Linked DNA regions of Homo sapiens: regions 1, 2, 3 and 5 are each linked to region 4. The links come from fine-mapping of genetic effects on gene expression. A gene starts in region 4. Each other region holds a variant in brackets. All regions are shown on one strand. Distances are between the middles of the regions.

Region 1 (6,046 bases), 100 kb before region 4:
AAAATTAGCTTGGCATGGTGGTGAGCACCTGTAGTCCCAGCTACTCGGGAGGCTGAGGCAGAAGAATCGCTTGAACCCAAGAGGCAGAGGTTGCAGTGAGCCGAGATCTTGCCACTGCACTCCAGCCTGGGCAACAGAGCAAAACTCCATCTCAAAAAAAAAAAAAAAAAGCTCCTATAGAACACAGAACTCAAGATACTGACACCATTGGTCTTGTAGCTAAGATGCCTGGAAAGTCTAAGTGTCTATGTTGAGTGTTTACCTTTTTCAGGTGTGACTTTTCTGAGAAATTGTAAGTATGTCATGTCTTGGACATTCTGGGCATTCCAAATCATAAAATAGGATTCCAGATTATTCTGAATGGCTGTATTTACATCATCCATTTCAACATCCATGTCAACATACATGTTGCTGAAGGGGTAGCTTTGGGAACTACTGCTCTGAACACAAATTAATGGTAGGAGGTACTGACTGAAAGCATCATGTGGTAGAAAACCCCAAATGCTTTTTTCAAGAACTATATATGAACTGTGTTTGTGCACGCACAGTTGTATGCTCATAAACGTTAATAAATTGGTATTGGGCAACACAATTAACATTCATTTCATTGGAGGCCCACAATATGCTAGGATTTTTTTCCCTTAATGATGTTTCAGAGCAGGATGCTTTGGTCCGAAATACATTGAAACACGCAACAATGAAATTCTATTTCTTTCTAGTAGTATGTTAAAGGCACCATGGGGGACACAAAATTATGAACCCCAAACTGCACCCTCAGGTTATTTACAGCCTATTAAGAAAAGCCATGTTTTTTCCCAATAACAGAGAATTCAAATACAGCTAGTCCCTGTGTTTGTTGTCAGAAAGAGAAAGAAAACCATACTTTGTTGGGACACATCATTATTAGTGTAACAATATATAAACATATGTCAACATGAAAAGCTTAATTTAAAGTATCATGGCATTACAGATCCCTTGTCTGAAGAATAAACTCAGTCAAAGAAAGTTGGAATGACTTGCCCGGGGTCACATAGTACTGATGATATCAGAACCCAGCTTTTTGACTTCCAGGTGGAGAATTACAGGTAAACTGAGAGTCCCTGGCTGGGTTTGGTCAGGTCCTTTATGGCTCTATAATGCTACGACTCTCTGAGAACTCTATGACCATGCTGCCACTCTCCTGACATTCTTTTAATTAATAAAATCACTCAGCTGAACAAAAATAATGGTTTCATTAAGATGCAGAAAATGCCACATTTAATCACTAAAAATGGCATAGTGTATCATTCACCTTAGGGAAATTTTTATGTTTAAATATGCAATATAGAGATATTTTAGATAATTAGCAACAAGGAAAGGCAACTAATCTATTATTGCATAATATTTGATTACCTATTAACTTCGGCCATGTAATTGAACACATAGCCAATGACTGTCACTTCCTGGCACTAAAGCCCAGGTAGATACTGCTCTGTTTTCATTCTGTCATTCTAGCCATTTCTAGGATGAATTTCCTTTTATTTGGAAGGAGGTTTTAAACTGAGCATTTGACGTCACATTGTTACCCACTGAAAAGTGCTCTCTGTAAGTGCTTCCTGAAGAAGGCAAGGTTGAAGTGAACCCTTTCAAACCAATGCGTGGCACTTTGTTAGCATTTGCTGAGTGTCCAGCACTAAGCTAGGCTTGTGAGGTAAGAAAAGAAAGTTTGTACCTGTTTTTATCACATGGGGCCAGTTACCTTTGTCTGCCTTCCAGGCCCTGGTTGCTAAATCCTGGGAAGTCTGTAATTACATTAGAAGATGGGATTATTAGTGATAAAATGTGGTGTTTTATAGATAGTGCTCTGAAACTTTGTTTCAATGGCCTTTCCCACACAGTATCTCAATAACCCTAAGGTAGGCAGGAAAAAAAATGTTACTGAGGCTCAGAGAATTTAAATGGCCTGCCTGAAATGTGACAGAAGGCAGACCCAGGACTAAAATGGAAGTCCTTGGAAGCCTGGCCCAGGGCCGTTCCTTCCTCACAAGGAAGGACTTGTAAAGAGCTTGCTTAATTCAAGGTTCCTTTGGCCTGGGATATCCTTTTGCTCATGCTCACCTGATGCCTCCAAGATAGGATTTCTGGGTATCCCTTCTTACCTGACATGCGTTCTGGCCACATCTTAGCCTGTAGTGCTCATGTACCTTCTTAGTCTCTAATCTGTCTATTGGTGCTTTGATATGTTAACCACGGGCTATCTTACTCCCTCAATTTTATTTTTGGATAAATTGGAGAAAACAGTTTTAAAACGATGAACTATAAGACTTTGATGCTGATTCTTTATTCTCAGTCCCAAGCTTTGCCTATACTTCAAAACAGATCTCAATGGACAAGGAAAAATAATATCAGCATTTCACTGGGCATCTAAAGTGCTAGGCATTGTGCTAAAAACTTTGAATGTTTTTAACATTGTATCAAGATGGGGACTGAAGGGCTTTAAACCCAGGCAGTCTGAATCCAGAACCCAAATGTCAGCTATGACACTGCTGTTGTCTCCCACAATGCCATACTTGCAAGTTTTGTGTAACACAGAGCATTTAGAAATCTCTTTAAAATTATGAAATTCTGGGTTTTCTTCCCCTGCTGTGGCCCAAACACAAACTAAGAACATACCTAACGAACAGCTGCAATTGATATTTTCATCTTAATTAGGGATTAAACATCAAATAAATTATTCTATTTAAGATGATTTATGATGTCCTAACTTTTCCAGTAGTTCATTTCAAACAGATTTTTAATAGTAGGAGAAAACAGTACCATAGTAACTTTTTAAAGTATGTGTGGGAAATTAACTAAAAATATTAAAAAGATCACTCACCCACTGTTAGCCTTTATTTTTTACCCCAAAACAACATGAGAAAATGAGTTTTTTCTTTTACCTTTGCTGTACCTTCCTCTTTGAAAATAAGCCCATTAATAAGAAGATATAAAAGGAAAATGTATCTCAAGACAAATTAAACTTTTTAAAAGAAACAGTTCTATCAAAACAAGTTTGCAAATAAAAAATAATTACCAAATGAACATATTAGGGGAGTGTAGCCATTAGGCATGTTTTTATTATGCAATAATTTATCCATGAACAGTTTATATTTCATATCCATATTACAGTGTTTTTTTTCCAAGTCACTGGGAGTACTCAAGCAGAGCTGATGAAAATTCATCAATCTGGGAAGTTCCAGAAGGGATTTTGCAGTGAGTAGAAAGTTGAAATCTTGGATGATAACGTCCCTTCCAATTTGAAGATTCTATAATTTCCAACTTAGGCAACTGACATAAGGTGAGTATCCTCATGGACTTGATTCCGTAGTGATGGTGGAAAGCAGTGGTGGACTATCGTGAGCTCTGGAGCCAGCCTGCCTGGTTTTGCTCTTGGACTTGATCACTTAATTGCTGTGTGAACTTGAGCAAGTTTCCCATCTGTAC[C/G]TCAGTTTCCTCATCTGTAAAATGTTGATACTAATAGTATGAATCTCATAAAGTTGTTGTGAAGATTAAATGAGTTAATGTAAGTAAAGTGCTTGAAACAGTCCCTGGCACAGGGTAAATATTCTATATAATAGCTATGCTATTATTTTCCAATAATAATATCGGGAAAATAGTAGATGATACTGGAATAATATTCCAGCAATATTGGAATAATATTGGAAATTGTAGTCCAAAAATATTGGACTATTATCTGATCCATCTTGTGGTCTCCAATATGAAACAAACAGTAGCCCATTGTGAGGTTAATTATGGTGAGTTAAGGGCTCATATCTTGTCTGAAGCAAAGGAAATAAAGAAAAGAAGAGGAGAGGTAAAATGAGGAATTTTATTTAAAGGCAGCAGAGAGATGTCTAATGTTCAGGGAGAAAAATGAACACTCCATAGGCCTAGTCCATCAGGAGTGAAAGTATGACAGGAGAGAAAAAGCCAGTGGTACACAGTCTCTTCACACACACACACACACACACACACACACACACACACACTCCTCAGCAAACACATTTGGGGATTACTGGTCTATGTGCATCTTAAAGTTTTCACTTTAGCACTAGTGTTTAGTTCTAATATTGACCTATGGCTTCAATTTGGCAGCTCAAGTCCACACATTTGCCCTGAGCCCCTGCTAAGTAGCAAGTGTTGTGGAAGCAAAGCATGCTGCCCAAGGGTGCACAGTCTAGGAGGAAGGGGCCGACAGGACTGTGCCCACACTTTTCACTGGGTGGTAAGTGCTGTGATCAGCTTCTATGCTGGATGCTATGGGGGCTGGGAGAAGGCCACCTGACAGCCTACAGGGACAGGGAAGACTTCCAGGCAGAGGTGAAAGCTTCACTTAGACTTGAAGCAGGTATTAGGCTGATGAAGAAAGTAAGCCAAACAAAACAAAACAAAGCAGAACAAAACTCCGAGAAAATTAGACTAAGAAATGTTTTAATTCCTTCCATAAACTTTGAAAATAGGCAGGCCTAGGCTTGAATCCTCGTTTTGCTATTCACTAGCGATGTGACTTTGGGCAAGTTACTTAAACTCTCTGAACTTCAATGTAGTCATCTCTGGGACAGGGTCCCTATCTTATTGTGTTGTTCTGAAAATTAAAGGAACAATGTATGATCACCTCATAACCCAGTGTCTCCCACAGGCTTATTTTGAATATCTGTGGTATTAAAACACTCATACTAAAACATAATAAAAGAGGAAGTAATGATTTGTTGAATTTAGAGGAAGAAATAATGACAAGGAAAGCCAAAAGTAGCACAACAAGCTCTGTATTTAGGCTCATATATCCATTCTTGCCAGAGCCGCTAAGTCAGAGCTGGGGTGGAGAACAACTGGCCAAAGTCCATTACATTCCATCTAATGATAGGTCTGTTGGCAGGTGGGGGGAGGCTATCAGCAACTCACCTTGTCCAGTACCCTCCTGTTATAATACAAAGCTCCAGCTCAAACTGAAAACTTAAAGTACAATCAGCCAGATCCACCTTCTAATGACTATGATGTTTAAAGCATCCACAAAAGTGAAATTCAAATTATTGATATGTTTTAGTAGCACCATCCGTAATTTCACCTAAACATAAAGAAGAAGCAAAACAGGAGCAGGAAAGTCAGTCTATGATAAAAGCTCCCATTTATCACAGGCCTCCTATGAGTTAAGTACTGTTTATTTGCTATTTCTAACGCATATTGCAACTTACAAGGCAGTCCTGTTCTCCTTCACAAATGAAGCATCCACAGCACAATTGGTGACTTCACAAAGGTCCCATGGCTCCTAGGTGGGAAGCCGCCAGAAGGCAGATCTGATTCTAAAGCTGCTGTCTGCATGCCAGGCTAGTACAGCTCTCAATCTGGGATCAGGAAAGAGAGGTACCACATGTGGTCAAGGAGCTCCCACATCCCCAGGAGTCCAAGGGTTGCCATTCTTCCTCCTTCTGTCTCTGTGATGTCACCACTACAATGTTGTCATATTGTGAACTGTTCTGGTAAGTTACAAATTTTTCCACAGAAAAGAAGAGAAAGGGCTACCCAAAAAATGGGAGAGGAAAAACTAATCGTAAGTCTTCAGAGCTAAGTGAAGTTAAGAACCTGACCTTGGATGGGGGTATCCTAACCCAGCGGTGGCCTTAGTCACGTCATACTTCTGCTTCGCAACTGATCCCAGATACAGACACAGTCTAATTGAAAAGAAGGAGTTATCTGGTTGTGAGGTGTATTAACTTCTTAGGTGAAGTAAAATGCTTTGAAACAAGGTGAATTTTAAAAATCAGATATCTTGATTCAAATCCGGTCTTTGCCACTTAATAACTGTGTGATTAAGCCTCATCTACTTATCTTCTAAATGAAATTAATAGTATTTACTTCACTTTTCTCATCTCTAAAATGGTGATAATAATACCTATCCTCCTAGCATGATGGTAAGGATGAAGTGAGAATAAAAGCTAGCATGTAGAAAATAGTAACCGAAGTTACCTATTGATAATTTTCTGTGATTATCTTAATTAGCTACAGTATAGCATTCTTACATGAAGTACCT
Region 2 (5,890 bases), 39 kb before region 4:
TTTCTTTGTAGCTGGGTAACCATTTATGTTTGAGGTGAAGATGTTAATATGGAAATTTTGTGAGCTAGGAAAGAGGATGAACGCTATCACTCTAATTTATGACCTTTCATATAAGGCCAAATGTAAAGGCAACTTCAATTGTTTTATATCTCAGGGCCAGCACATAGCAGATGTATGAAATTTGGAGTGTTAGACATAAACTTTTATTACCAAATTATAAATAATTTCTCCCACTTATAATGTTCACCTTTCAAGTTCATCTTGATTAAAATACAAGGGCAGCTTCACACCGATTTCACTAAATTTTACAGCTGAGAGAGGTTTTCTAGAGTTCACGGTGGAGTATAAAGCATCACAGCATTTGGGAGATTCTCCTTCCAGGAGCTCAGACTCTGATCCTATCTCTTTTAAAATTCAAGTCATGCCAAAATGATGGCTGATGAAGTCCGAACATTATTTAAACATCTCACATGTTACATCTGAAACCAAGCGCCCATGATGTAGAATATATCACTTCCTTGGGTAAGCAAAACGACATACTACTTTTTCTGAGAAATTTGCCCACCAGTCAATGAGCTTGTATCACTTCTTAGAAGGTATTCAACAACCAGAGAGTGTCTGTCTGTTTCCTTATTTTCTTTTTTCCCCTCCCTCCCTCTTTCTTTTCCTTCTTTCTTTTTCTTTCTTTCTTTCTTTCTTTCTTTCTTTCTTTCTTTCTTTCTTTCTTTCTTTCTTTCTTTCTTCTTTCTTTCTTTCTTCCTTCTTTCTTTCTTTCTTTCTTTCTTTCTTTCTTTTTTCCTTCTTCTTTCTTTCTTTCTCTCTTTCTTTCTTCATTTAAGAAACAGTCTCGCTCTATCATCCAGACTGGAGTGCAGTGGCATGATCTCATCTCACTGCAACCTTAGCCTGTCGGGTTCAAGAGATTCTCATGCCTAGCCTCCCAGGTAGCTGGGATTACAGGCATGTGCCACTACACCCAGCTAATTTTTTAATTTTAAGTAGAGACGGGATTCAACATCTTGGCCAGGCTGGTCTTGAACTCCTGACTTCAAGTGATCCGCCAACCTTGGCCTCCTAAAGTGCTGGGATTACAGGTGTGAGCCACTGCCCCCGGCCTCTCTTCATTTTCTATAACAAATAATTTTCATATCCCATGATTAAAGGCAGATAATGGTGGCCCCAAGTATCCAAAACTAGCACATCACAGCTTATGAGCTCCTATTGTACAGTCTGAAGGTCCAGGAAAGGTTCAGGTCCATGCCAGCACTTCATACCAGTTAATGCATTGCTCCAACAAGACCAGCCAGTATTCTTGGAAGCTTAACATCCATGTTACATATTAAAATCTGCTTTGGAGAGTGTTGGTCAATCCAATTACATGTTTGTATTTATCATCATCATCATCATCATCAACAACAACCACAACAACATCACAATACATTCATCTACATGTTCACAGGGCTGTTGGGTGTTTAATAAGCTAGACATGAGACCATCTTTTATGAATATGAAACATTGAAGGACATAGTTATTTAAAGGCATATGTACTATAGAACTGTAGAAGGGACAAACAATGAAGTGGCAAGAGTTCTCTTAGCATTTATATATCTGCATTTGTCTATTTTAAGCATAATAGCTTCAAGAGAATGAAAAGACAAGCCATAAACTGGGAGAAAATATTTGTAAAACACATATCTGATAAAGAACTATTATTCAAAATATACAAAGGACTCTTAAAACTCAACAAAAAGAAAGAACAAACTGATTCAAAATTGGGCCAAAGACCTGAACAACCAAAGATATACATATGGCAAATAAGTATATAGAAAGATCCTCCATATCATATGTCACTAGGGAATTACAACTTTAAACAACTATGAGATAGTCACTAAGCAGCTATTAGACTAGTCAAAATCCAAAGGACTGGAAGCACCAAATGCCCATGAGGATGTGGAACAATGGAAACTCTCATTCACTCCTAGTGGGAATGCAAAATGGTACAGCCACATTGTAAGACAGTTTGGCAGTTTCTTACAAAACTAAACATACCCTTGCTATATGATCTAGCAGTCATACTCCTTGATATTTGCCCAAATAAGCTGAAAACTTATTTCTATACAAAAACCTGCATACACATATTCATAGCAGCTTTATTCATAACTTCCCAAACTTGGAAGCAACCAAGATGTCCTTCTGTAGGTAAATGGATAAATAAACTGTGGTACATCCAAATAATGGAATATTATTCAGAACTTAAAAGAAATGAGTTGTCAAGCCATGAAAAGGCGCAGAGGGGTCTTAAATGCATATTTCTAAGTGAAAGAAGCCAGTCTGAACAGGCTACACAGTGGGGTGGTGCAGTGTATGCACCACTAACTGTGTACGGTATGATTCCAAATATATGATATTGTGGAAAAAGGCAAAACTTTGGAGACAGAAAAAAGATCAGCGGTTGCCAGTGGGGAGGAAGGGATAAATAGGTGGAGCACAGAGAATTTTTAGGGCAGTGAAACTATTCTGTATGATACTGTAATTGTGGGTACATTTCATTATGCATTTGTCAAAACCTATAGAATGTGCAACACCAAGAGTGAACCCTAATGTAAACTTTGGCCTTTGGATGATAATGATGTGTCAGTGTAGGTTCATCAGTCCTAACAACTAAATGAAACTAAACTACATAAGTTAAACTAAAGCTTGCCAAAATATTTTTATGACTTTAAGGCTCCTTAATAAATTAATGTTTACATTCAGGGTTTTGAAGACTAGTATTCACCAAAAGTCTTGCAGTGTTTTCTTTGCATCATAAAAGATGCTGAAAGCAAAAACCTGGGAAATACGGAAAATTGCCTTGTGAGTTAGTAAAAGTCATTTATAAGCTGCTGAGGGGCTTTTGGGAACAGCCACACTTTTTATAAGCTTGTTAGCTCATGAATTAATTCAGGATGCCCACCCCGTGTGTCAAACTGGGCCCTTACCCAGCTACTCCCCTTAGAGAAGGTTGCAGCTGCTCAGCAGATGAACTAGGCCCTTAAAACTCCTCATGGCTCCCTACCCACCACACTAGTGTTAA[C/T]GGCTCGATTAGGGCTCTGTAGGAAAGGGAAAGAAGTTTGAATCAAAAATTTTCTTTTTTTTTTTAATAATTTAAACAATCAGTAAGGAATGTGCAATTTGATGTCGTTTGCAAAGAAAGTTTTTAGGAACAGGGCTTTTTATCCTATTATGTTTGTTCTTTGCACGTAATTATTTGATTTAAATGGTACTTTTCTTAAAATTTTTATTTACATTGTATTTTATATTGCAAGAACTTCAAATACAGCCCTCACAATAAATCAGTAACTGTTCGGTCTTTATCCAAACTGAACTTTTATAGAAGGATATAAGGAAGTCTCTATTCTTTAACAAATCATATCCAGTTGTTTTCTGTCCCTGATATCAATCAAAAGTTCATTTCTTCTGCCTTTAACCAAAAGAAGTTTACAAGGGAGGAACTCTTTATCTTCGAAAAAAATTTTGCATCTTAGATTTTATAACACCTAATGGGGTTAAGGATCTGTGTTGAAAGATCTTATCACTCTGTGTATAGTGTTACAAATCATAAATATAATTAAAGTATAAGTTTTCAACTGATGAGAGTATATGTGGAGGGGGAAAAACGAATCAAGTCCTGGTGTAACAGTTCTCTTCTTTTTCCCTTTCAATTCCATTAATAGAAAGAGTATTGAGAATTCATGCAAAATTCCAAACCAAGTTCCCATAGTAGCACTGAAATAAGTCTGCACACCATTTCCAATAGGAACTAGTAATGTAACACAATTAATGTCATTATAATTTGGAGTTACTTGAGTGATTTTGATTATTTTTGTATCAATTAACATTGCCATGGAAACAGTCTCTTGCTAAAATGGCTTAAGTCTTCACACATTTAATCAATATCCAGAGGTAGATTTAAAGACTTGAGGTGTTTCATTTATTTATTTATTTGCTTTAAACTATTCAAGGACGTTTCTGGGTACACAATGCCGTTACTTAAACAGTAAATTCCAGTTTCCTATGACTTCAAGTTATTTTTTACACTTCTGTAAATAAATCCTGCCCAAAAGATCACTTCTAGTTTCCTGGAATTTTGTTTTTGTTTTGTATTGTATTTGTTTTGTACTCAGATTTCTGTTAGAGGAACTCCACTGCACCAATTTTGCTACTAGACAAACCAGGAATCTTGGATTTGCGCGCTTTGGTGCTGACAGGCTTTTTCGGCCCCAGCGGGCTGCCGTAGCAGAGAAGAGCACTGATTGGCTGAGGCAGAAAAGTGCCCCTGCCTCGGCGCTTTCGGTTTTGGCTGGGATCATCCGCGGCGGCCGGGCTCGTGGGGCGCCTGGAGTGAGGGTTCTGGTTCCCGCCGGCGAGGTGAGCCGCACCGCTGCGCGGGCCGACGACGGGGCCGGGCGCAGCCCCAGGTTCGGTGCCCCAGTGTTCAGTCGCGCTGTGGAGCGGCGGCTGCAGCGGCCCTAGGCCGGGCGAGGCAGCCCCGGAAAGGGCCTGCGGTGAACAGGCTGGGGCTCCGGGAAGGGACCGCTGGGTGGCGGGTCCCCGCGAAATGCCGCGTCCAAGCTCTCCGCGCATGGAATGGCTGGGAGAGGTCTGATGGTGGGCGCCGGGACCGCCCTCAGCGAGGCGCCTAGACTGCGCGGAGAGGAGCGGCACCGTCCCGGCTCCTACCGAGTTGGCGTCCGAGATCAATTCAGGTTGTTGAAGTTCCCCAGGGAGCCCCGACGCTAATCCCAAGATTCGGCGGGAAAGCGGATCCCGAACCCAGGCCTAGGCTTCGCCTGTCTTCCAGGAGGGCTTCAGGGAATTGCGAACCCTCTCCTACATCGGGGTGGCTGCGCCTGACCACAGGAATTAAAGGCTGGACTCGCCTGTCTTACCAAGTTGTCAGGTCGAGGAACCCGATTGTATGGTCTTAAGTCCTATCGCCCAAGGTTTTCTGTGCGTATGCGTGTCCGCACACCTGCATAGCAGGCATTTTTAAGGTGTGTAGGATTAAGATGATGCGGATTACCCTGCCCCACTGCTCTTAGTAATACGTGACTATTGTAGAAAATTGCAAACATAGAAGACTTTAGTGAAGAAAATAATATTCACTGAACCCTTTCACCTACGATCATTTTCTCTTGTATGTGCTAGCTTCTACTTGAACTAAGAGTGTACATGTTTAATCACTTAACAGTGTAGTTTTCCACTTCCATTTAAAAACTCTTCCTAAATATTATTCTAATTTTGTATCTTCTTTTGATTGTCCTATCATTGTGGGTCCCAGTTTAGGTCCCGTAAATTATTCAGTCATTTCCCGATTGTGGGACATTAGATTGTTTTTGAATTTTTACATCATCTTAGCATCCCAGATAGTGCTTTGATAAACTCTTTTCCCCCTATTTTTTAGATTATTTCCTTGGACTAGATTCTCAGAAGTGAAATTATCAGATTAGATGCTGTCATCTGAAAGGTCTGTTTTAGGCCTTCATACACATTGCTGCAGTGTTTTCCAAAAAAGTTTTAGAGATGTTTGGTAATTTTACTTGCTTAAATATTGTGCAGAAATCTTGAGAGGCTTGTGTTTGTGGTGTGTGTGTGTGTGTGTGTGTCACTGGCGTTAATGCGTTAGACTACCTGAATGTTAGGGCAGGAAGAGACTTAAGTGGTCATCTGGCATAACTCCCTTATATTGCAGATGAGGAACCTGGGGCCATGAGAAGTGAAATTATGAGTTATCCAAGTCACACAGCTAATTAAGTAGCAGAGCTGGGATTAGAACTCAGGTTTCCTGCCTCCCAAGTGAGTACTCTGTGCTGTATCAGGCAGTCTCTCACTGAACTGTGGCATAGTAGAT
Region 3 (6,046 bases), 49 kb before region 4:
AACTTATGTTGAAATTTAATTGCCATTGTAATAGTGTTGAGAAGTAGAACCTGTAAGAGGTGATCTGGTCATGAGAGTTCTGCTGTAATGAATGGTTTAATGCCGTTATCATGAGAGTGGGTTGGTTATCACAGGAGTGGGCTGCTAATAAAAATATAAAGTTCAACCCCCATCCCTCTCTGTCTCCTGGCTCACTTATCCTTTTGCTTTCTGTCATAGGATGATGCAGCACAAAGGTCCTTGCCAGATGTTAGTGCCATGCTTTTGGACTTCCCAGCCTCCAGAACTGTGAGAAATAAATTTCTTTTCTCTATAAATTACCCAGTCTGTGGTATTCTAGTATAGTAACACAAAACAAACTCAGACTGGCAAATAGGAAGTGCTTACTAAGTGTTAACAGGAGAATTACAGGTTCTGTAGGGTCTGAAGCATATTCAGTTTGGTACCTCTTAACACAAATATGTAAAGTTACAAATATTAGGTATACTCAGGAATAATCATTTGCTCAGTGCTAGGGACATGATAGTGACTTGGCATTCTTCCTGTCCTACAGGAGCTTATACTCCATATGTGAAGAGTGGAGAATAAACATATATTTACAAACTAGACAGATTATTTTTGAAAACAGCTATCTTTTTGCACTATCATTTATTCTGAAAGGATATAACTGGCTTTCCTGGGGAAAAGATGGCACTATCTACAGCAAGGTATCCTTTAAAATATGCAAGTAATTGAAAATAGTTGAAAACAGTGATTCTGCATTGTGGGCATTTATCTAAGGAAATACTCAGATAAGCATTATATATATAAATTATATGATATATATATATATATCCATGTATATATATATATATATATATATCCATGTGTATATATATATATATATATATATGTATATATATACCTACACATATTTAAATATATGTTGTAATTGATGGCAAAGAATTCAAAATACATGGTTGTTTGACAATGAGATTAAATTTTTGAATGTTATGCTGCTATGAAAATGATTTTATATTCACAGAAATGTAAAGATCTTCACAAAGTATAATTGAATGAGAAAAATTAGATGATAGAACAGTGTGTATCATACTGAGCAGGAGTGAGATATAGATACAAGAGTGGCTTTCAAGCACTACGTTCATGCATTGTTTTCCTCTGAGTGATGAAATAAGAAGCAAGTTTTGAGCTTTATCTGTAACTTCCAATTCATTTACAGAAAATATGCTATACTTGGTTGGGTAGAATCAATATTGTGAAAATGACCATATTGCCAAAAGCAAACTACAGATTTAATGCAATTCCCATCAAAATACCATTATCATTCTTCACAGAACTAGAAAAAACAATCCTAAAATTCACATGAAACCAAAAAAGAGCCTGCATAGCCAAAGCAAGACTAAGCAAAAAGAACAAATTTGGAGGCATCACATTACCCGACTGCAAACTATACTACAAGGCTATAGTTCTCATAAGAACATGCTGCTGGTATAAAAATAGGCATGTAGAGCCCAGTGGAACAGAATAGAGAACTCAGAAATAAACCCAAATACTTACAGCCAACTGACCTTCAATAAAGCACACAAAAATATAAAGTGGGAAAAGGACACCCTATTTAACAAATGGTGTCAGGGTAATTGGCAAGCCACATGTAGAGGAATGAAACTGGATCTTCATCTCTCACCTTATACAAAAATCAACTCAAGATGGATCAAAGACTTAAATCTAAGACCTGAAACCATAAAAATTCTAGAAGATATCATCAGAAAAACTCTTTTAGATATTGGCTTAGGCAAGGATTTTATGATCAAGAACCCAAAAGTAAATGCAACAAAAACGAAAATAAATAAATGGGACCTAATTAAACTGAAAAAACTTCTGCACAGCAAAAGAAATAAGCAGCAGAGAAATCAGAGAACCTACAGAGTGGGAGAAAATATTTGCAAATTCTGCATCCGACAAAGGACTAATATCCAGAATCTACAAGGAACTCAAACAAATCAGTAAGAAAAGAAAAATAATCCCATCAAAAAGTGGGAATAGGATGTGAATAGACAATTACCAAAAGAAGATATAAAAATGACTAACAAATATTAGAAAAAATGCTCAACACCACTAATTATCAGGAAATGCAAATTAAAACCACAATGAGATATCATCTTACTCCTACAAGAACAGCAATAATTTAAAAATCAAAAAAAATTATAGATGTTGGCTTGGATGTGATGAAAAGGGAACACTTTTATACTGCTGGTGGGAATGTAACTAGTACAACCACTGTGGAAAACAGTGTGGAGATTCCTTAAATAATTAAAAGTAGCTAGGCACAGTGGCTCACACCTGTAATTCCAGCATTTTGGTAGGCCAAGGTGGGCGAATCACTTGAGGTCGAGTTCAAGACCAGCCATACCCACATCATGAAACCCCATCTCTACTAAAAATACAAAAATTAGTGAGGCGTGGTGGTGCACACCTGTAATCCCAGCTTCTCGGGAGGCTGAGGCACGAGAATCGCTTGAACTCAGGAGGCAGAGGTTGCAGTGAGCTGAGATCATGCCACTGCACTCCAGCCTGGGTGACAGAGTGAGACTGTGACTCAAAACAAAACAAAACAAAAACTAAAACTAAAAGTAGAATTACCATTCAATCCAGCAATCCCACTACTAGGAATCTACCCAGAGGAAAAGAAGTCATTGTATGAAAAAGACACATGCACATGCATGTTTATAGCGGCACATTTCGCAATTGCAGAAATATGGAACCAACATAAATGCCCATCAACCACAGAAAACGTGGTATATATACACCATGCGATACTACTCAGCCATAAATCGGTATGAAAAAATGGCCTTTGCAGCAACTTGGATGGAGTTGGAGACCATTATTCTAAGTGAAGTAACTCAGGAAAGGAAAACCAAATATCGTATGTTCTCACTTATAAGTGGGA[G/T]CGATGCCATGAGACTGCAAAGGCATAAGAATGATACAGTGAACTTTGGGGACTTGGTGGGGAAGGGTGCAAACGGGGCAAGGAATAAAAGACTACATATTGGGTACAGTGTACACTGCTCAGATGATGGGTGCACCCAAATCTCAGAAATCACCACTTATCCATGCAACCAAAAACCACCTGTTCCCCAAAAACTATTGAAATAAAACAAAATAAAAAAGGAAATATGCCATACTGTGTAATAAAAATAAATTAATTTTATAAAAAGAATGACCACATCTTACTCAGGGTTCATATATGTCCTCAGTTCTTGATCCATCTTCAATAAAAAGGCATATTTAACAAACCATCAGTTTTTCCAGACTTGGAATAAGCTTCTGGCTCAGATTTAGATGTGTTAGAATAGTAGTGAAATGCAAGTTTGTAGCCAGAACAGGACATGAGCTAAGAAGACACAGATTCCATCTGGAAGGCGTCTTGCCCTTCCAAGTCCAAGTTCATGGATGGAGCATCACTACATTCTAAAGTTAGACATAAAATGCTAACAGTATTGGTATTAACTAATGTGTCATTTCTGTGGTTTAATTGGATTGATTTTCTTGGAAATAATCATCAATGTATTCATCTCAAAAGTCTTGGATGCCCTTGACTTCATAACAGCTGCCATTATCCTAATTGTCTGGGGTTGAGGAATAAAGGACTTTAGATGGCAGCGAGTGGCTTAAACATTTTGGCTTATAAATATGTTGAGCATTCAAGTTGAATAAAATATAACCACTCCATCCCCATGTCCTTTCTTTCTACCCTTTTTCTTTGAAAACAGCTGCTGTTTTTACAATTATTTATTGCTATATTTAAAAACATGTAACATGAGATCTACCTCCTTTAAAACATTTTAGGTATACAGTATAGTATTGTTAACTATGCACATTGTTGTACAGTAGATCTCTAGAACCTTTTCATCTTGCATAACTGAAATTTTACACTCATCAGACAGGAATTCCCCATTTCCCAATTCCCCCAGCTCCTGGCAACCACCATTCTACTTTCTGCTTCTATGGGTTTGACTACTTTAGATGCCTCATGCAAGTAGAATCATGCAGTCTTTGTCCTTCAGCAACTGGTGTATTTCACTTAGCATAATGTTCTCAAAGTCCATCCAATTTGTTGTAAATGCCAGAATTTCCCTCTCTCTCTCTTTTTTTTTTGAGACAGAGTCTCACACTGTCACCTGGACTGGTGTGCAGTGGCACGATCTCGGCTCACTGCAACCTCTGCCTCCCAGGTTCAAGCGATTCTTCTGCCTCAGCCTCCTGAGTAGCTAGGATTACAGGTGCCTGCAACCACCCCTGGCTCGTTTCTTTTTGTTTTTGTTTTTTTTTGTATTTTTAGTAGAGATGAATTTCACTATGTTAGTCAGGCTGGTCTCAAACTCCTGACCTCCTGATCCGCTTGCCTTGGCCTCCCAAAGTGCTGGGATTATACGTATGAGCCGCCACGTGCTGCCGAATTTCCCTCTTTTTAAGGCTGAGTAGTATTCCACTGGGTATTGATATGGTTTGGCTCTGTGTTCCCACCCAAATCTCACCCTGAATTGTAATAATCCCCACTTGTCAAGTGGAGATAATTGAATCATGGAGGCAGTTTCCTCCATACCGTTCTCATGATAGTGAGTGAGTTCTCATGACAGCTGATGGTTTTATAAGTGGCTTATTTTCTTCTTTCTCCTGAATATGAAGAAGGATGTGTTTGCTTCCCTTTCCACCATGATTGTAAGTTTCCTGAGGCCTCCCCAGCCATGTAGAACTGTCAGTCAATTAAGCCTCTTTCCCCTATAAATTACCCAGTCTCAGGTATTTCTTCACAGCAGCATGAGAATAGACTAATACATGTATATATACCACAGTTTCTTCGGCCATTCATCCACATCTCGGCTATTGTGAATAGTGCATGAACATGGCAATGGAGATACCTCTTTGAGGTCTTCATTTCAATTCTTTTGACTAAATAGCCAGAAGTGAGATTTCTGGACCTTACGGTAGGTTTATTCTTAATTTCTTGAGAAACATCCATACTACTTTCCATGGCAGCTGCACCGCTTTACATTCCCAGCAACAATGCACAGGGGTTCTGATTTCTTCTCATCCCTCACCAACATTTGTTATTATGATTATTTTTTATAATGGCCATCTTGACAGGTGTGAGGTAATATCTCATTGTGGCTTTGATATTCACTTACTTGATGATTAGTGATGTGGAGTATCTTTTCATAAATCTCCTGGCCATTTCTGTGTTTTTCCTGGAGAAATGTCTATTCAAGTCCTTTGCCCATTTTTCAATAAAGTTATTCGGAAGACAGCTGCTGTTTTAAACCATTATTTTTTTTAATTACAATTCACATTTTTTTCACTGTTATTCTTTGATTTGGGTGAGATAAACCAAGTCTGATGTAGCCCACTCTTAGATATACACAATAGGAAGGCTAGTCTGCAAGTCTGCTCTGTACCTTTGGGCAAGTGCGCACGTTTCCTGTTATTCCATATATTTAGGAAGATATAGGCACCTTCTTGTTACATATATCTAAGAGTAGACTACATTAGACTGTGCTTATCTCACCCAAATCAAAGACTAATGGTTTAAAAAATAATGTGGCACTTCATCTGCTTAGGCCATCATACCTATAAATACCTGCATAATCTTCTCACACCTGTCACTGATGCAGATTTCCTAACAAGAGATTTATTACTTTAAGCTATTGAGAAACTCTACCTTATTAAAACGTAAAGGAGAAAATGACCATATTGGATTTACTATTATTCCCTTATGTGAAATGAGTATTTTAGGTATTTGCCATGATGACATTTGGCTGAAAAAATAGGGAAGAAATATAGAACACATAAATTATTTTGGAGGAACATTTAGGGGTTAGAAATCCAAAGCCAAGAGCCAAGGCTTGGTTAGATAGGGATGCTCTTTTGAGAGATGCCATGGTGAGAATTCCAGTATAGTCAGGGATGACCAAACAGACTGGGGAAGAAGCAGCACCTTGGCAAGGAAACTTTGGGAAGACATCAAAGACAACTACTTTCTTCAAATGGC
Region 4 (6,046 bases):
AGAAATCTTCAGATAGTTTTAAAAAATCTATCTAAACATTAAAATGCTAATCACAATGATGATACTGGAATAGCAGATTTCTATGTAAAAACACCAGTCAATCTCAGCAGGAAGTCATTACCAAGGTAGGAAAAACATTTGGATAGGAAAGACTGTTCATGAGTTACAAAAGCCATTATCTTCATCTCCAAGATCTTTGAAAATGAAGAAAATGTCCACTTGTCTGCTGGAGTGAAGGAGCAGGAAACAGGACTAGAATAGTGAGCTCAACAGGTTCCTCCTTCATTTGCAAACTTTTCCAAGGCAGACTCTTAAACCAGGAGTGAGTGTGGGATGGTGTCAACGCAGGTTATAATTACGTGCCAGACTTTAATGCATGCCATCTCAAGCTGTTTTAAGAGTAGCTCATTCTTATGCCTTTATAACTAAAATAAAACCTTGAAAATGTGTATCATTTTCTTGCTGGAAGAAATAGAAGAGATTATTTAATTCAAACCTTTTTATTTTATACCTGAGGCAACCCAGAGAAGTTAAGTGATTTACCGAAGGACACAGAGTATCTGATTTATAACCATAAAACCCACCCCAAGACTTTCCCTTGGTATGACGTTAATATTAACTGTTCTACTCAGGGCCAGGGGATGTTAAGGTAACAGATTCAATCATGTTAATATATCAAGTCCAGCCAAATTGCTAGTGTGAAATGACCTCAAGCAGATTCCCAAAATAAAAGCAACAAACAAACAAAACACAGTATTTTCTTGCTTTCCGGGTGCACACAGCTGGGTCTCCTTCATGTGGGTGGGGATTGGAGGCCAACTCACTGCTGTCTCTCGGGCTTCGGGCTTAGCGCATGATCTGGCTCAGAGCCACACTCTCTCACCGCCTCCTCTCCGTGGTGGGCACCAACCCTCTCTGTGGCTCAGCCAGCTTTCTCTTTCCCCAGACAAAACAGGTACAGAGCCCTTCCTTTGTCTCAAACCCCATACTAAGTACCAACTCCTTATTATTTATTACCTCACTGAAACTTCACCAGCACTTCGGGATGCAGGTACAGGAACTGGTAGTTATCTTCATCTTGTAGATTATGTTACAAAGCTATTCTATAGCAAAACTGTAGGGAAAAACCTTATCTATCACTTCCTGAATGCTGTGGGAACTTTTGGCAAGTTACAGAAACACTGTGACTCAGTTTCCTTATCCATAAAATGAGATAACAATAGTGCAGACCTCATTGTGTTGCTGTATCGATGAGGTAATTTGCCAACTAGCTGACTAGAATAGTGTGTGGTACTGTGCAGGCATTATATAAATATGCTGTTATGTTTAATTACTATCCTGTCCCCTCAATGCCTCTTACACATCCTGCACGTGGTACAATACGGCCTCAGGTCTGACCCCACACCATGACCTATGGCTCAACCACCTTCCTTTGTACAGACCTGCGCTGATAAATATGGTAGCAGCTTACCACATGTGGCTCCGGAGCACTTGAGATGTGTCTAGTCTGAATTGAGACGTGCTGTAAGTGTAAAATACCACTGGATATCAAAGACTTACTGTGAAAAAAAGAATGCAAAATATCTCACTAATGATATTTTATATGCTGATTGCATGTGAAATGTTTTCAATATATTGAATTGACTAAATTTATTATTAAAACAAATGTCTTTTGTTCCTTTTCACGTTTTTTAAAAATAAGGAGAGTCCAATTTTTTTGTTTGTTTGTTTTTGAGACAGGGTCTCACTCTGTCGCCCAGGCTGGAGTGCAATGGCAAGATCTCAGCTCACTGCAACCTCCACCTCCCAGGTTCAAGCAATTTTCCTGCCTTAGCCTCCAGAGTAGCTGGAATTACAGGCACGTGCCACCATCCCTGGCTAATTTTTGTATTTTTTGGTAGAGATGGGGTTTCAACATGTTGGCCAGGCTGGTCTTGGACTCCTGACCTCAGGTGATCTGCCTGTCTTGGCCTCCCAAAGTGCTGGGATTACAGGCGTGAGCCCCTGCGTCCGGCCTAGAAAATTTTAAATTACATATGTGGCTTGCATTCTATTTCTATTGGCCAGCACTCGTATAGAGTAGCCTTGTATGTGTTCTTGGTCAGATTCCCAGGGAGAGTTTCTGTCTCAGCCCTGAGTCAGCAGGGCCCTCGCCTGTGATGAATGCCCCCCTGGTACAATCAGCTTTGTCGGGAGAGTGGCATAAGATGCGCTGCCGGCTCAGCAGAGGCTGTGGGTGTGGCAGGCAGGATAAGGCCATGTCTAAGATATGGTGTCCTCCTGATTTTCAACAAGAAATATTACATGAGCAAATGGCAGGATTATTTATTGAGCCATGCAGGTGCGCTCTCTCTACCTTTGCACTCCTCTCCTCATTCTAATTGGTAGTTGGGCCTTTTGAGAATCCGTATATCCAGGGAGTTTGTGTTTCAGGGGCAAAGCTGAGGTGTTGGAGATTACCACTCTACCTGTGGTAGGTGGATTATGCCAGGTGGCCCAGGGTAATGGGGTGAGAGTAAAAAAAAAAAGGAGAGGAGGGACACTTTTGTCTCTAAGACTGGGATAGGAGCAGAGTGGAGTGGAGAAGAGGTTAGCCACTCTCCTGCTAGGGGCAGAGATCTGTGTCAGGACCCAGTGGAGGGGGTGGGAAGAACCCAGGCCACAGCCTTGCTGAAGACCTGAGCCCCTTTTTGGCATAGAAGCCTTCCAACTAACAGTCTTCAAGTGACCACATGAGCTCTGAAAACTATCATAACAGCAGCCATGGAAGGAATGTATCCTAATTTTCTAGACCTCCCAGAATTTCTCATGACTCAGTGGGAGATTGAGATTGCCTCCAATCCTAGTGGGATAGAAGCTTAGAGAAACCAAATTGAATTTGTTTGCTTTTGTTCTGTGTGTGGGGAATACTGGTATCCTAGGCCAAGGAAGCCCAATTTCCCTTGGTGTTTATAGGATAGATAGTCTCATTTACACTTGCAACAAAAGGCTTAGCAACCTGGTCCCTAAGCCAGTGCCTTGCCTATTCAGTCACTCATAGCTTTAGTTTTTTCTGAGTGGAGACAAGGCCTAACAGTCAGAACATTGCTCTCTCTGCAGCCCCCTACTCCACATCACCCAGGACTATCAATCCTAGGATTCTCTCTTGGACGCCTTGCATTCAAACAGCCACCAAATCCTACCTCCACCTGATCTCCTGATCTCCCAAATCCATTCCTCTCTCTTTTTCTTCATTGTTAATGTTGCAAGCTTCTAGGTGATGCTGGTGTTGCACTCTAGGGACCACACATTGAGGAACACTGATCTATAGGCTCTCTGGTATTATCAGGTGTCTCAGCAGATTCTTAGATGAATGAAAATGTGAACTCCAGCTTTAGTGCAATTGATACGGGAGGTGCCTATGCCACGTGTTATTTTTTTGTACCAAACGTTGCTCTTGGGCTAACGTATCAATTCTATTTCACCAAGAGTAACTTCAGTCCACACTGACTCAAGAAGCCAAGAATGCTGAGATGCATTTCATTCAAACATTCTCCCCTTTGCAGGGAGATCAAGATGGAGGCATCCAGCTTCTGCCAAGGATGTCAGTGCCAGTCCTGTGCAAAACCAGTTCCGGTTCTTTCTAGTTCTTCACGCAGGCTTGAACAATGATGTGACTGTAAACCGTGTGTGTGTGTGTGTGTGTGTGTGTGTGTGTATGTGTGTGCTAATACGATTTAGGTTGGATTTGGACACTGAGGAACAGTTCCTGGAGATGCTGAGGATTAGTGGTAGCAGCTGTTATTCTCCCCATTAGAGGAAAAACTGAAAGGAGAAGAAAATACTTATGTTTAAGGGATGTGTTTGCAACTCTGCGGGAGGAAGCCATTCTATCAAGCCTGAAGAAAACTGTGTTCCTAGGTAAGTGGATGTTTTTATTTATTTATTTTTGTAGAGACAAGGTCTCCCTGTGATGCGCAGGCTGGTTTTGAACTTCTGGCTTCAAGTGATCTTCCTGCCTCGGCCTCCCAAAGTGCTGGGATTACGGGTGTGAGCCACCATGCTCAGCTCCAAGTGGATAGTTTTCAGGGTTCAGGTAGACAAGATGCTAGTGGGAAAGAAGACACAGTGAAACCTAAGGCAGGAGGGTGGGAGGTGGGGCTGTGGCCGTAGTCTGTGAGTCCAGGCACTCACTCCCCTTCCCTTGTAGGCAACTGTGTCTGATCTGCCTTTGGAAAGACCACTTGCCATCAGCAAGGACTTGAGGAGCATTTTCATTTCATTTCTTTCTTTTCTTTTAAGAGACAGGGTCTTGCTCTGTACCCAGGCTGGAGTGTAGTGATGTGATCATAACTCACTGCAGCCTCGACCTCCTGGATTCAAGTGATCCTCCTGCCTCAGCCTCCTGAGCAACTGGAACTATAGGTGCGCACCACCATGCCCAGCATTCAAGGGGCATTTTGTATGTGGCCCTTATGAAAGAAAATGAGAAGAACCCTGAGCCCCCTTGACTGAGAATGTGCTTTTACACAGTTCATCTTCATTATCTCCTAATGTGTCTGAGAAGCTGTAGCCATGGTTCCTTGTAGTATGGAGATGTGTGACTTTGGTGCTTCATAGAAAACAAACTTAGAAAAGAAAGGCATTGTCTGAAGGACTCTTATGTCTAAGAAATTTGAGGTATAGATCATATTCCTGTCTTCTTTTAGCTTGTGAATGTAAAAGGTGGTGTTGTGTGAAGAGACAATGGGAGTGGAGGACACTTGATTATTTGGTTTATGGATTATTTCCTTAGTCTATTGTTCTGATAGCTAGTTTTACTACATTTTCAGGATTTTATTTTCACCTTTTAAAACCAGCTGACTACAGGGGAGGGCATTTTTTTTTTTTTTTTTTTGCCTTGCATTGTTCCTTAGGTCAAAAAATTAGCCAAACTTCTAAAATGCCTGTGTGCAGGACTATAAAAAAAAAAACAGAACTTTTTTTTTTTTTTTTGAGATAGAGTCTCGCTCTTTTGCCCAGGCTGGAGTGCAATGGCATGATCTCAGCTCACTGCAACCTTGGTCTCCCAGGTTCAAGCAATTCTCCTGCCTCAGCCTCCCGAGTAGCTGGGACTATAGGCACATGCCACCACACCCAGCTAATTTTTTGTATTTTAGTAAAGACAGGGTTTCACCGTATTGCCCAGGCTGGTCTTGAACTCCTGTGCTCACGCAATCCACCTGCCTCGGCCTCCCAAAGTGCTAGGATTACAGGCGTGAGCCACCGCACCTGGCCTAAAACAGAACTGTTAAAAAATGCCTGTGATAATCCTAAATATTTATGTAGGCAGATTTTCATCTGCCTTGTTTGCTATCTCTCATTTTATTTTTGTCATCTTCTTTTACATTGCCAAATTTTAATTCTTCCTCTTGATGGGAATTAGAGGTAGTAAACAAAAATAAAATTTACTCTATAAATGCTATTTTATTCAATCATTGTATTCTATTCCTGAGCCAAAATTGTTATCAGTATGTTTAAGAAGTTATAGAATAAATTGAGTATTTCTTTCTCTGCTCATCTTCTTTACTAAAAGTAGTGAAATAGCTAAAAACAGCCAAAGAAAGGGCAAAGAGATATCAAAGCATTGCCAGCTTAACAGTCACTTCTAAATAATTGATAGTTGGTAGATGTTTTGTAGCACTTAACTTGGTAATTTTCAATTGCAACAGAGATAAGATGCTCAGCCAAGCCATCCCATGCCATGCTGCCTGACCATGGTGGTGTATTGAGTGTCTACTTCAGATAATGTATCAGAGGCCACACCGCCTTTGGGTACCAGTCAGCTTGCAAGGAGCTCACGCTAGGATACAAACATTTTCTGGTTTTATTTCTTTGACTCAATAATTAAAGCCTCTCTTTTGAACAACAACAAAAAAAGCAGTCTGGTCTTATGAGAAAATTACAAGAACAGAAGTTTTTAAAAAGGTGTTTGGAAATGAAACACTTCCTATAGCCTGGCATTTCCTTTTGATCTTGGCCTTGAACATTAGCAATCCTGGGAGGCTGCACTAAAAGCATCTCAGGT
Region 5 (6,046 bases), 25 kb before region 4:
TGTATTTTTAGTAGAGACGGGGTTTCGCCATGTTAGCCAGGCTGATCTTGAACTCCTGACCTCAAGTGATCTGCCAGCTTCTACCTCCCAAAGTACTGGGATTACAGGCATGAGCCACTTTGCCCAGCCTGGACATTTCATTTTGAAATTCTTTTCATTGGTTTTCAAACAGGTTTGCATATTGTGCCTCAGATTTTTCTTGCTCATTTATAATTGCAGTTTGTATGTAAAATAGTACAGCAGGAAACGAGCTAAAGTTGTAGCTTAAGCTTTCTTTTGCTAGGAAATAATTTTATTATTCACAGTCCATTCTCGTTCTTTGAGAGTTTACCGCTTTTAGCAGAATTCTGGTAGATTAATGTCTTTTGCTGTCATTACACAATTTTGAAAGGAAACTTTTTTGTTTAGAGGATAATGGGGGCAGAGGCAGAGAGTGAGGAGCATATTAATGAAGTTAAGACATCAAATGAGAAACTATAGACTCGACTGAATTGAATCTAGTATTTGTTTTTACTTAAATTTTTTTTTCTAGGAAATACCACTTTAAATTAGAGACAGAATTAGAGGCTTACAGATTTTCATCTTTTGAAAAAGATCATCAGGTCAAATTTTACAAAATTTATACCATCTTAACACAATTAAAGATTGACTCAAACTGTTTCCTTGAAAGCTCCCTCGAATGTTTTTGGCCATTTTCTCTATTAGTTTTGATTGGAAAATATTATAGCTGTAACAAAACAGAACAAGATGTGTTATAATGCAATATGTTGCCCTATATTCTCAAGCTGCTCTTCACTGTGAGTCACAGCTTTAAGATGTTCTTTCGGGAGCACCTGCTGTCTCCTCTTCTATTATTTTAACAGATTGTGGAGACTTCCTTTTAACCCTGGAGTACATTCATCTGCTGCAATAGATGTTGTAAAAGAATGAAATAAATCTGCCAGACCCGTATTTCACTTAGTGGCTAAAGTAGGAAATGCCACTGGAACCAAGGATCATTTGTTTATGCATAATTGCCCACCTTGTGCTTAGCTTTCAAAGAATGGTATTTTTGCCGGAATAGTCTTATTCTCTTACTTTTTTGAATGCTTTAAAAGTTTCTGTGTGGTCATACGTACCATGAGGGAAGTGACAGTTTGTTGTTTTACCGGGTAGTAGTGGGTGCGTGACTGCCTTCCTAGACTTCATTCAGATTGGCATAGAGTTGTTTTGTGCTTAAGCTGTTGAGTTTCATTTATGGTGTGAATTTTTATATTAAGCATCTAAGAACTAATGAATAAAGAGATTGTCTGCTCTAAGGTATACCCTGTAATTTTCAACTCTTATTTGCCTTGTGTATCTTCTTTTTGACTAAATATGTCTGCAGGGGTCCTGGCTTGCCTGGATGGCTACATGAATATAGCCCTGGAGCAGACAGAAGAATATGTAAATGGACAACTGAAGAATAAGTATGGGGATGCATTTATCCGAGGAAACAATGGTAACATTTCTTCGCCCTACAGTACAGCATTCAAAATAAGCCTTTCTATTTATAATCCAGATCACCAAAGAGGTTTCTAGATAATTTAAAAGTCCACTTTTAGGCTTGATTATTTTAAAATGCTTATATGTCAGATCTTCAGTTTGACCAGTTATTTTGTAGATGCTTCATGGAATTTTGAAACCAAAATTCTCTCCTTCCCTTCCTTTAGTGATGAGGAACTGAGGGACATTGTTCTCCTTACCTGGAACCCTGCTTTCTCGAATATAGTGTAGTATATCTCCCCAACACATATTCCTGCTTCTTGTAGCCTGGAAGTTGGAGATGTAAGAATGGGCACCGTTTCCCTGCTGTCTTTGATTTGCATAATTTGGCAGTTCGTCCTATTTGTCCCTTCTCTATTAAACATTCAGATGCTTTCTATGCAGATTTGCATCCTTCAGTTTGGCAAAAATGGCAAAATAGAAAAAGTTACTCAGTTTTTAACAACTAATAAATTGCTATGATTTTTATAGTTATTTTTAAGTACCTAGTTTAAAAATGAAAATTATAATAAAGTCATATTTGTATTTTTGGTGGGGAGGGAAAGATATCAGAATTATGAGAATTACCCCACTTTTTGGTTCCATCTCCCAGAAACTCTGGGATTCTTGAGTTCAGATTTTTTGTTGATTTCTTTAATTCTGGATGTCTTCAACCCCCTAAATAGTTGGATCTCTTTGCTATAAACTAAACTTCCTGACTTTTATAATAAGAGTCTGTCCCCTATGCTTACAGGACCTTATTTCTTCATATCATATTTTTACATACATTATTTCCTGGCTTTCTAGTCCTTTCTATTTATAGAATTATTTATCCTATTTTTCATATCCTTATTTGACCTCCTCTTTTTCCTAAGAAATGTTATGATCTTGTCTCACCTCAAGACAGCTAATGGCAGCAGTCACTGGCAGGTTGGGTTCTGTGCGTGTTGATAGGGTAGATCCTTTAACGTGCACACTACCCCTAGGACTTGGGGGGCAGGGTTGGGGGGCGGCTGTACTGGCATTCTGATGCTTCCCTTCATGTCACATTTCCCATGATGTAATCAGTGACACTCATCTTTAGACTCCCAAGTTCACATCATTGGCTCTTAAAGAGGATCTTGACTTATTTGATTCATCTGTGCTATGTTCTTTGATGAAGACACCTTACTGTTCGCTTTGAGCAGACCTCTCAGAAGCCGAGTAGGCATGGAAGGTGGAAGGGAGAACCACCTCTAGTTTGGCCAAAGTGACCCAAGCATTTCATTTTGTTTCATTCCTACGGACCACACATCCTACGAGTTCATGTTGGTAGTCATGAGAAGACCACTAAGCAGAACATTAGGTAACACCAAAGTATGAGACTTTTAACGGGAACTCAGAATAAGGACTTTGGTATCATT[AAAAAAT/A]AAAAATAAAAAATAAACTCCTTAGCTCTTGTTTATCCTGTTGCATTTAAGAAGGTAAACAGCAAGTTTAGAGTTTGTATTGGGGAGACAGATGAAAATATGTTGTTTATTCTTAATTTGAGATCTAGCCTGGTTAGATTTACTGATTTACTTTCTGAAAAGCATCTTTTTTTTTTTTTTTTTTTCCTGAGATGAAGTCTCGCTCTGTGGCCCAGGCTGGAGTGTAGTTGTGCAATCTCAGCTCACTGCAGCCTCTGCCTCCCAAGCTCAAGCAGTCCTCCCACCTCAGCGTTCTAAGTCGCTGGGACTACAAGTGCATATACCACCATGCCTGGTTAATTTTTTGTATTTTTGGTAGAAACGGGGTTTCACCATGTTGCCCAGGCTGGTCTCAAACTTCTGAGCTCAAGTGATCCACCCGCTTCAGCCTCCCAAAGTGCTAAGATTGCAGGCGTGAGCCACCGTGTTCAGCCCTGAAAAGCATAATTCTTATACTTCTAACTATAAAGCATTCTTAGATACCAGGGACTTTCACATATATTTTATTTTATCTTCCTGGTCACACTTTAAAGAGTCAGTGAGACACATGGATGAAATTAGGACAGTTTTGTAAGACATCAAACCTGGGTGTAGATTCATAAAACTAGTCTTACAGTACTTCTAGAGTTAATTGAATGATACGAGAATTCCTTTTAAATGTCAGATGTATCAGACCAAAATCTGTTGGCTTTTAAACTTGCTACTATGTATACTTACAAGCAGGGTTTTTTAAATTTCAATTTATGTATTTTTTTCTTTTCAGTGTTGTACATCAGTACACAGAAGAGACGGATGTGAAGACACCAAGAGAGCAACGCTTTTCATAGTTGGATATATTTTTTTATGAATTTTTTCTAATTTTTGCTTCTTTTGTGATACAATTTGTCCTCTTTTTATAATAGTTGGTGATTTTTCACTGACATGTGAGTAAGATAAATGTATACAATTGTGGATTTAATTGTGAAATGTTCTTTCACTTGTAAGTTTCAGTCATTTTCTTTTACCTCGTTGTCAGTGTACAGAATGCTAAAATAATTAAAAAAAGACAAAATATACCTCTTCCTACAAGATTATTTAACTTAAGTTTCGAGAAGTGTCATTTCATTTGACTTGCTTTTCTTATCCAGCTAAAATGATGCATATATTTTATATATTGTATGGACATATAATTAAAACATTTTGGAGGAATCCTCCTTTATTGCATCCTTTTCTGTTCATACAGAATCCTTGCGTGAATATGTTCTACAAAGGCATCCAGTTTCAGTCTGAAGCTACAAAAAGGGGCCACAGGATCAGAAGTTCAGCCACTGATTGAGTCACCTAAATAAAAAACAGAATTGGAAAGCCAAGAGTGCCACTTGCACATAAGGAGTGGGAATTCGAACTGAGGTGCTGGAGAAATCCTAAAGATGAACAAGATTTCAGTGAGGAGAAAGCCCTCCTGTCAGTGGTCCCCCTGCATCTCCTTATGCAATTAGACTTTTTAGGTTTCCCTGCTCCCTTTCAGGAGCATTGGCATCAACGTTATTCTCTCAGTTTATGAACACAGTAGGGGAGGGGCCATTCCTGTACATCTCTCACAGTCAGATTAAAGCAAAGCCTAGAGTTTGTAAACATAATTCAGGTTCTAATTGCCGAGCTGAGATTGGGAAAGAATTTTTCCTAACTCTGGTCTAGCAAGTGGCTGTAGGGAGGCCTTTCTCAAAAATCAGCTGTATTTGCCTTTGACATTGTCCAGGAGCAGAGCACCAGGCTTTATGTTGCTTGGCACAAGGCAGCTCCTCTGGTTATGTGACTCCTGCTGAGAGGATTTTCACAATTTATTAATGAGCTTTCCACAACCCTGCTTTATTCTCCAAACAGTTTTACGCTGTCTCTAGGAACAACAAATATATCTGGGCACTGTGGTTGAATGAATACCAGACAATTGTGTGAATGTTGTATTGGACTTCCTCTTCCCTCCCTTCCCAATCTAAATAGCATTCCTATTTCAGGAGCCGATGGTGTGATTCGAAACAACTGCTTGGTTGAAGGATGGGGGGCAGGATCGAGAAGGAGAGAGGGAAGGGGCAGTGCTGATTCTGGAGAGGTGTATGTAGTGTTTTGTCTTGGTTTATTTTAAAGATCAGAGAGTAATTGGAAACAATTATTTTTTAATTAATAACTTGGGAAAGGTGAACAGAAGCATTTCACAGGGTTTTACCGTGTGCACACTGAAAATAAAACACTTTATGCTATGCTTCAATAATTTATCACTTCTTGACAGGGGCTTGGAAAAGGTCCAGTATGTAAGTACAAATCACCAATTTGCTCTTTTATAAATGAGTTCTTTTAAGGAGAAAATGGATGGCTCTCCAAGTGGAGCATACATGTTCTCATTTGTTTTGTAGAATATGTGGGGCTGCAGGTTATTGTGTCCCTTCATTCACTTATATCAGCCACCTCTAAAAGCAATTCCATTGTAGTCTCCCACTAATCTGTAGCGTCCTGTTTTTTCTAACTTCTTCCCTGACCTCGCCTTTGATATATAAGTCTTTATTTTCCCCTTGCCATCTCTCTAGTTTAATAGCTCTACAGTGGAGTACTGTTTTCAACCATGGAACTACTTTTAATCAAGATCAACTTTGGGAAGTGCTGCCATTTTTATGGTAATAAAGGACTGTATTATGCACTTGAACCCGCTCAAGTTGTCCCCTGTGTATACCTTCACATAGTAGAACCATGAAACAAAGTGTAAATGCTTAAATTGCTTTGTTCTTAACTGTAGTCTCCTAGAGGTCAGTGAATGATTTCTAGTTGCATTGTAGCGAAGACATTTGTTCCAGGTTGAAGAATTTTTTACTTGAGAACATACATTTTCCCTGTCTGTGTGCCCCCAAACCCTGTCTGCCACACTCTTTCTCTTGGGCTGTGACAAAACAGAATGTTTAGCGAGAAACAAAATTGTGCTCGATTTTCAGACTATCTGACTTCATTTTCTGTTTTGGTCTTTGAGCTATTCCTTGGCTAATCTTCCAACAAGTCGAATTGATTCTTATTTCAAAACTGTTTATCCCAAAACAGAGCTGTTGACAAGTACAAATACAGATGGCAGA

Evidence for each region. PIP is the estimated chance that this variant, and not a neighbour inherited with it, causes the effect.
Region 1: its variant is fine-mapped to the expression of REELD1 in whole blood (INTERVAL, PIP 0.96).
Region 2: its variant is fine-mapped to the expression of REELD1 in lung (TOPMed, PIP 0.91).
Region 3: its variant is fine-mapped to the expression of REELD1 in whole blood (TOPMed, PIP 0.97).
Region 5: its variant is fine-mapped to the expression of REELD1 in whole blood (TOPMed, PIP above 0.99).

Annotation. Positions count from the first base shown.
Region 1 is chr4:146,106,391-146,112,436 of GRCh38, forward strand. LINC01095 (long intergenic non-protein coding RNA 1095) reads right to left here. Exons shown (of 6, transcript NR_038331.1): 4 at 5,211-5,360; 5 at 4,921-5,083; 6 at 3,065-3,476. It overlaps LOC105377469 (a long non-coding RNA gene), which reads left to right. Exons shown (of 3, transcript XR_939294.1): 2 at 1,495-1,690; 3 at 3,148-3,235. Among named protein-coding and RNA genes, the nearest start is that of LINC01095, 12 kb to the right of the region's middle. The variant C/G (reference allele first, on the strand shown) is at 3,463.
Region 2 is chr4:146,171,405-146,177,294 of GRCh38, forward strand. It overlaps LSM6 (LSM6 homolog, U6 small nuclear RNA and mRNA degradation associated), which reads left to right and starts at 4,314. Exons shown (of 4, transcript NM_007080.3): 1 at 4,314-4,407. RefSeq lists a silencer at 4,464-4,523. The variant C/T (reference allele first, on the strand shown) is at 3,074.
Region 3 is chr4:146,162,075-146,168,120 of GRCh38, forward strand. No RefSeq gene overlaps it. Among named protein-coding and RNA genes, the nearest start is that of LSM6, 11 kb to the right of the region's middle. The variant G/T (reference allele first, on the strand shown) is at 2,948.
Region 4 is chr4:146,210,795-146,216,840 of GRCh38, forward strand. REELD1 (reeler domain containing 1) reads left to right here and starts at 3,744. Exons shown (of 8, transcript NM_001354631.1): 1 at 3,744-3,900; 2 at 4,282-4,404.
Region 5 is chr4:146,185,908-146,191,953 of GRCh38, forward strand. LSM6 (LSM6 homolog, U6 small nuclear RNA and mRNA degradation associated) reads left to right here. Exons shown (of 4, transcript NM_007080.3): 3 at 1,367-1,480; 4 at 3,715-5,628. The coding sequence ends at 3,749. Among named protein-coding and RNA genes, the nearest start is that of LSM6, 13 kb to the left of the region's middle. The variant AAAAAAT/A (reference allele first, on the strand shown) is at 2,907.